Homo sapiens: one gene and its partner. The protein of the gene in region 2 interacts with the protein of the main gene of each other region in a pairwise test. Each region holds a gene or a part of one and is shown on either strand. Other genes may lie near its edges. The genes, in order: MAPKAPK3 and SMS.

Evidence for each region.
Region 1: the proteins of SMS (region 2) and MAPKAPK3 interact in a two-hybrid assay, tested with the Homo sapiens proteins (one large-scale study listed by BioGRID and IntAct).

What each region holds. Positions count from the first base shown.
Region 1 is NC_000003.12:50,633,873-50,637,892, reverse strand, and holds part of MAPKAPK3 (MAP kinase-activated protein kinase 3), read right to left. Parts: intron 1-4,020. UniProt on the Homo sapiens protein: Stress-activated serine/threonine-protein kinase involved in cytokines production, endocytosis, cell migration, chromatin remodeling and transcriptional regulation.
Region 2 is NC_000023.11:21,971,709-21,975,208, reverse strand, and holds part of SMS (spermine synthase), read right to left. Parts: intron 3,313-3,500; coding exon 3,219-3,312; intron 2,703-3,218; coding exon 2,638-2,702; intron 1-2,637. UniProt on the Homo sapiens protein: Catalyzes the production of spermine from spermidine and decarboxylated S-adenosylmethionine (dcSAM).

The DNA of each region.
Region 1 (4,020 bases), on a different chromosome or scaffold from region 2:
TGTTGTTCCCAAACAGGCCTTACTCCCCCAGGCCTCTGTGTCTAGGTCTGTGCTGGTCCCTGTCATGTGCATTCTTGCCTCATCCTCTCTGTTGGGTCAACTCCCTCTTTTTGGGGAAACTTCAGGGCTCAATTCAGATCGATCAATCTCTCTCTCTCTCTGTCTCCATCTCTCTCTCTCTCTCTCTCTCTCTCTCTCTTTCTCTCTCTGGAAAGTCCTCCCAGCACCTTTTTTTCTTTTTCTTTTCTTTTTTTTTTTTTTGAGACAGAGTCTTGCTCTGTCACCCAGGCTGGAGTGCAGTGGCACGATCTCGGCTCACTGCAAGCTCCGCCTCCCGGGTTCACGTCATTCTGCCTCAGCCTCCCGAGTAGCTGGGACTACAGGTGCCCGCCACCACGCCCAGCTATTTTTTGCATTTTTAGTGGAGATGGGGTTTCACCGTGTTAGCCAAGATGGTCTCGATCTCCTGACCTCGTGATCCACCCACCCAAAGTGCTGGGATTACAGGTGTGAGCCACCACGCCCGGCCCCTCCCAGCACCTTTCTTACTGGTTTTGCTTCTGTTCCTCCTACCACCCTGGGAGCAGCTTGAGGGCAGAGGCAGGTCAAGTTCACTTGGGGGTCCCTGGCTGGGGCCTGGCAGGAAACACTGGGCTTCCGAGCAAACAAAGGATGGGAGGATGGGCCCAGGACTGGAGGGAGATAGGAGGAGCCAGAGGGAAAGAAGGAGGGCGGTAGATGGCCAAGGAGGGGCTGGAGAGCCTTCCAGCCTGGGCCTGCATCCTGTGCTTTGCTGAGGTAGAGGAGCAGGTGGAGCTGCCCTGAGCTGGAGCCTCTCAAGGCTTCTGCCCCACTGAGTCCATATTTAGGAACCCATTTCCCACATGGATTAAAATAGTCCCTCTACAAACGCCAAAGCCCTGAAAATAGGCATAGGGACAGGGGAGAGGGCCGTCCCCGGAAAATATAATAAACGCCCCACTGGCCTCTCTGCAGAGTACATCACAGGAGCCAGAGCCCTCAGCCTGGGCCCAGGTCCAGCTGCCAAGAAATCCCCTGAGCTGTCTCTCCTGACCCCTTGAGTTGACCCTGAGCCCAAAACCTCCTAGAGCCTCAGTTTTCTCATCTTCCTTCCCCATAGCCAGAGCCTTCTCCTCCAGGCCTCCCCTCAATGTGGTCCACCTCAATGTCATCTCCTCTCAGAAGCCCTCCCTCTTCATCCTTTGTTTTTCTTTCTTTCAATATATGCTTTGTTTATTGAGGTATAATTGACATATAGTAAAATGCCCAGGTCTCAAGGGTCCAATTCAATGAGTTTTGATGATTGCACACACCCTTGGGACCCAAACTTCCATCAAGACAGAAAACATTCCTAGCTCCCCAGAAAGCTCTCACGTCATCGCCCTTTTCACTTCCTGTGCAGCACTTGCTCACAACATACAATTAGCTTGTTCCTTTGATAACTCTTTAAGCAAAAACACACATACAGATATTGTACTTTCAATGTGCCTGGCTCTGTTTGGAGTACTTTATAAACATTAGGAGGAAAGGACTTCATTATCACCACTTTTTGGATGAGAAATTGAGGCACAGAGAGGGGAAGTAACTGGCCCCAAATCACATGGCTGATCCCCCAGCCAGGCCAACACCAGCAGCCTCCCTCATCAGACTGTGGGCCCACAGGGCAGGGCCAGTCTGCCTGGCCACCTCTAGGTCCCAGTACTGGGATACGGGGCCTGACACAGAGCACTAACTCAGGTAATAGTTGTAGATTTTTTTTTTGAGACAGAATCTTGCTCTGTCACCCAGGCTGGAGTGCAGTGACACAGTCACAGCTCACTGCAGCCTTGATCTCCTGGGCTCAATGATTCTCCCACCTCAGCCTCCCAAGTAGCTGGGACCACAGGTGCATGCCACCACACCTGGCTAATTTTTTTTTTTTTTGGTTTTTTTTTTTTTTTTTTTTTTTTTTGGTAGAGACGGGGTTTTATCATGTTGCCCAGGCTGGTCTCGAAATCCTAGGCTCAAGTGATCCTCCTGCCTTGGCTTCTGAAGCACTGAGATTGTAGGCATGAGCCACTGTGCCTATCAATATTTGTAGATTTAATAAATCTATAGAGTAAGGATGAGGGGGAAAACCTCTCACAACCTATCATGAGGACAAGATAAGATTAAATTGGCCAGGCGTGGTGGCTGACGCCTGTAATCCCAGCATTTTGGGAGGCTGAGGCAGGTGTATCACGAGATCAGGAGTTTGAGACCAGCCTGACAAACATGGTGAAACCCCATCTCTACTAAAAATACAAAAATTAGTTAGTGTGGTGGTGTGCGTCTGTAACCCCAGCTACTCAGGAGGCTGAGGCAGAAGAATCACTTGAACCCAGGAGGCGGAGGTTGCAGTGAGCTGAGATCGTGCCACTGCACTACAGCCTAGATGACAGAATGAAACTCCATCTCAAAAAAAAAAAAAAAAAAAAAAAAAAAAAGATTAAATTGAGGAGGCCCCAGTGAGGCTCAACAAATGGGAGACATGACAACCTGGCAAACTTTCTCCCTGCTGCCCAAGGGCAGCCTGTACCTCACCTACCCTCTCTGTTGAACCAGGCTTTACCTCCTCTTCCAGGGAGCCCATCATGACTGCTCCATTCCACAAGGCATTTCTGCAAGTTGGCCTCCTTCACATAGGTACATGACTCCACACTATTCTTCACAAAAGATGTCCCAAAGTAAGAGCTCCATCTTCCCAGGCATGAGAATGAGCACAGGGCCAGGACACAGGAGGCCCAGGTTCTATGCCTATTCTCAGTATGACCTTAGGCCAGTCCCTTTTCCTCTCTGGGCCTCTGTTTCCCCAAAGTTAAGCTGTAGGGCTTGGGCTATATAGGGTGGGGGAGATAAGTGGGTAACAAGGCAGACTTCTAGACAGGCGTTCCTTGCAAAGTACCTACCATAGTACCACTCCCACATCATTGCCCCCATGGAGCAGCCTCTGGGTCCCCATGGCCTCCATATCCACATGCCTGAGCCCACTGGGGGCTACCTGAAATGGGCAATGATGTCATGGTTCCCAGTCACAGCTGGGAAGACAAGAAGATAGGAAGGGGCTAAGCACGGTGGCTTACGCCTGTAATCCTAACATTTTGGGAGACCGAGGCGGGAGGATCACCTGAGGTCAGGAGTTTGAGACCAACCTGGCCAACATGGTGAAACCCCATCTCTACTAAAAATACAAAAAAATTAGCTGGGTGTGGTGGTACGCACCTGTAATCCCAGCTACTTGGAAGGCTGAGGCAGGAGAATGGCTTGAACCCGGGAAGTGGAGGTTGCAGTGAGCCGAGATCGCATCATTGCACTCCAGCCTGGGCAAGAAAATAAGACTTTGCCTCAGAAAAAAAAAAAAAGAAGAAGAAGATAGGAGGGGATTTCTGACAACCCAACGGGCCCCCACCCTTGCCTCATTCCTCTCCTATGTTCCCTGAGCTCCCCAGGGGTCCACCAGAACTGGAGGGTCTGTGATGGCACTTGGGCAGCTCCACAGCTCCAGCTAGTGCCCAATAGGTACACACAGACACACATTCACACACACACACAGACGTACACATACACACACCCCTGTGAGGTGGAAACTGGGCTTCTTCCTGAGGAAGGGGATTCCTGGCCATGCACCTGAGGTGTGGGTCCCCACTGAAGCTCAACAAGCATTGAATTTGAGATGATGTTTCCTTTAGCGAGTGACCACAGGCCTCAGGCTCTGATATACTGGTTTTCACTTTCCCTTCTCCCCTCATCCTCCTTTGCCAAATTCTCTCTCTTGCCCCCAGAGCCAGCAGCCAGAAGGCCAAGACCCCTACTGACTTCACCAGCTAGTGAGCCCCAGCAAAATTTGAGAGCAGAAGGGCCCGTGCCCCTCTAGCATCACCAGGTGGAATGTGGGGGCCTCAAAACAGGCCAGGCCCCTCACTATCACCACTATATCCCTTTCCACCCAAGGACAGGGTTTACTTGTGGGTGGAGGAATTC
Region 2 (3,500 bases):
CTGTAGAGCACCCTACCAAACTCGTTTCAACCTTCACTGCTGAAAAATGAAACTGGACTACACCAATTCAGGTAGATTATAGCCCAGGCCTTAGGTATACTGTGTAAATTGCAAGAACCTTTTAAAATCAAAGTTAATTTATGTGACCTTGTTTTCTTGTTTTTTCACTTGAAAGTAGAAAACAAAAATAAATTCAAGTACATCCCATAGCTTCTTAGTCGAAAATTCAGACTTAACTTATCAAAGGGGAATAATTTCAGATAATGTTACTGGGTTATTTGTTAATGATTTAATCTCTAACATTTAACCTCTGATCTTTATTCTCCAGATTTAAAAAAAAAAAAAAAAAAAAGGATAGCAATCCTTGTCCTTTTGAGGCCAGTAACAAAGGGTTTACAACAAGGTATACCCAATTTCTAGCTGTCGTCAACCTTATTTCATGAAAAGATAATAAAAACTGTGACAAGCATAAGCAAGGTATTTTGAAGATCTAAAGCTTAACTCCACTCTTAGAAAACTCCTATACCAAAAAAGGAAAAGAACCAGACTTCTCATGAATGCTGAAGCCCATAAATGTATGCTGTTTACTCACTCCTAGAGGCAACTGATAAAAATCAGACCACATTTTGATGTGGACCAATTCATTATCATAAAGTTAAGACCCTTTCTGACAGTGGGGAACCTGTTCATTCCAAATGGGTGCAGATAAGGAAAACCCTGCCAACAGGAAAAGATGAAATGTCCAAAAAGTGGTATGGGTATATGGGTGTGGATGTGTTTTTAAAGGAAGGTGAAGGGTAAGAGACATGGCTGGGGACCCTAAACTGAGCTTGGGTGCTCCAAAAGAGCCTGAGTGCTCTAACAGATCTCAAAAAAATAGTTCTATACTGTGGCGTCTTCTTTTCACTTTCAGTTTCCTGCTTTCCTCTTTAACTACAGAAGGTTAAACAATTACCTAGTTATCTTACATCTGCTCTGGAGCTTTCTTGTGGGCTGATCAAACTTAGCATGCTGAGTAATTAAGTACTTAAACATCCTAACACTTGCCAATAAGGATTCCTTCTTCTGGAAAGTGCCATGAACTGGAGAAACCTGTATTTCCGTTGCTCAGCAATGAGGAAGTCCCTCTGTGTTGGTCTCTGCAACTGAGGTTAATTTTATGAGCAAGGGACAGGCCTTCTATGCCTTAAGGCCTGATGAGGATCCACCAAGGCAGGGCAAGAGTAAATTGTCCTGCATTTGCATGCTGTGTATCCAAAGCACTTCTTAATTCCCATGATGTACCAGACACTAGTTCCTTCCCACGATGTCCGAATTGCATTCTTTTAAAATCTGACACCACTGGCAAACACTTCGGCAGTGTCCGATAGAAATTTGGATGATGAAAATGTTCCGTAGTTGTACTGTCCCACATGGCAGACACTAACCACTAGCTATTGTGACTAAGGAACTGAATTGTGTATTTTAATTAACTTTAAATAGCCATGTGGGGCTAGTGCCCATCCCACTGGATAGGGAGAGCTTCATTTTCCTCATGATCACTTGAAAATAACCTGCCTATGGCAGCTTAAAGTTGGTGGCCTATCAATTCTTAGTATCTTGGAAAGTTTTCTTCTTTGAACGCCTTGAGGCAAATTTTCTTATCACCCCACCCTGTCGGAAGTCTCTTAAAATTGCTTAACTTCACTCTGGGGCCTAGAGCCTGAAGGAGAAAAAGTGACCTTTTCTCTTTCCTGGAAAGGTTGAAGTCAGGTATTTGTTTTGTTTTGTTTTGAGGCGAGTTTCACTCTGTTGCCCAGGATGGAGCGCAGTGGTGCGATCTCAGCTCACTGCAACCTCCGCTTCCCGGGTTCAAGCTATTCTCCTGCCTCAGCCTCCTGAGAAGCTGGGATTACAAGCACGTACCACCACGCCTGGCTACTTTTTCTATTTTTAGTAGAGACGGGGTTTCACCCATGTTGGTCAGGCTGGTCTCGAACTGAAGTCAGGAGTTTTCTAGCTCCCTTTGATGAGGTGGCAGCTCTACCTGGGTCTCCACTTTAGGCAGTTCCAACTCCTTGGAGTTGGTCCATATCCCCTTTCTGCCTTAGTTTCATTTTACCTAGCATTTGTGTGTGTGCATCCATGCACATGAATGTTCATACACTGTCTTGTTTTGGTGTGAGGGGCCCAGTAGTTCAGTTCACCATGTTGCCAGAAGGAGGTGCTGAGTTTGATCTTTTCCACATCTTAAGCAGACACTACTGGGGACCACACTGCCATTCTGAATTTTTTTTTTTTTTTTTTTTTTTTGAGACAGTCTCATTGTGTCACCCAGGCAGGAGTGCAGCGGTGCGATGATCTCAGCTCACTGCAACCTCTGCTTCCTGCCTCCTCGGTTCAGGCCATTCGCATGCGTCAGCCTTTCAAGTAGCTGGAATTACAGGCATGCACTACCACGTCCAGCTAATTTTTGTATTTTTAGTAGAGACGGTGTTTTGCCACATTGGCCAGGCTGGTCTCAAACTCCTGACTTCAAGTGATCCGCCTGCCTCGGCCTCCTAAATTGCTGGGATTACAGGTGTGAGCTACCGCGCCCAGCCAACTATGATTGTTTCAATCGATTAAATATAAAAGGACATTCAAGAGTGGACTTACCGTTTCACCCGCCCAGTACTGTCCTGACTCAATTCTTTCATTCTTTCCTCTACTTTGTTCAAAATCTACAATTAAAAGAAAAATCAATGGGCTTGTAGAATAAGCTGCATGGAAGAACTAAATTACAGACCCAACGACTGAGGCCATGTTGACAGAGCTGTGCAAGATTGACCTGTCCCTCCTCCTACCCTCTAGCAGCCTGTAGACGCCTGGCCCAATTCCACTCTCCCATACCAACTATCCCTTCATGTTGCTGACCTAACCTTAGCGTAAGTTAGCAACAAAGTAACACGGAAGAGGAAGGCTAAAGGGTACTGCAGCTATAAAATCCTGGTTAAAGGTTTTCTATTCCCTCCAGTGGAAAATAAGATTACTCATACTAAGGCAGTTAAAAGGGAACGCTGACACCCAGGTTCCTAAAAACAACTAAACAACTACTTCTATTCTAAAATCACTTATGTGGAGGGAGGAAAGTTTAAAATTAACTGGAAAGTAAGCAATGAAGAGAACATTATTTTAACACTAAGCTAAGCAGATACTATGATCCTTAAACACTGAGTAAATGAAAGTGAAAAACCGACACTGTCGATCTCTTCTTTGCCTTGCGCATCACCATCATAACTCTGAAGGTCCAGCAACACCAATCCATGTGGGTAAATTCTCAAATTGGCAAAGCTACAAAGGAAAATATAATTTTAAGCTTAAGAATTGTATCGGGGCATTAAAAAAAAAAGAGAGAGAGAGAGAGATGTCACCCAATTAAAAGACCACTGCTCTTTATTTCCCCAAAAGTATACAGTTAAGCTTTTTGCTTTCTTACTAGGGCTGCGTCTTGCGGGGAGAAACTACCAATCATTTGTGGA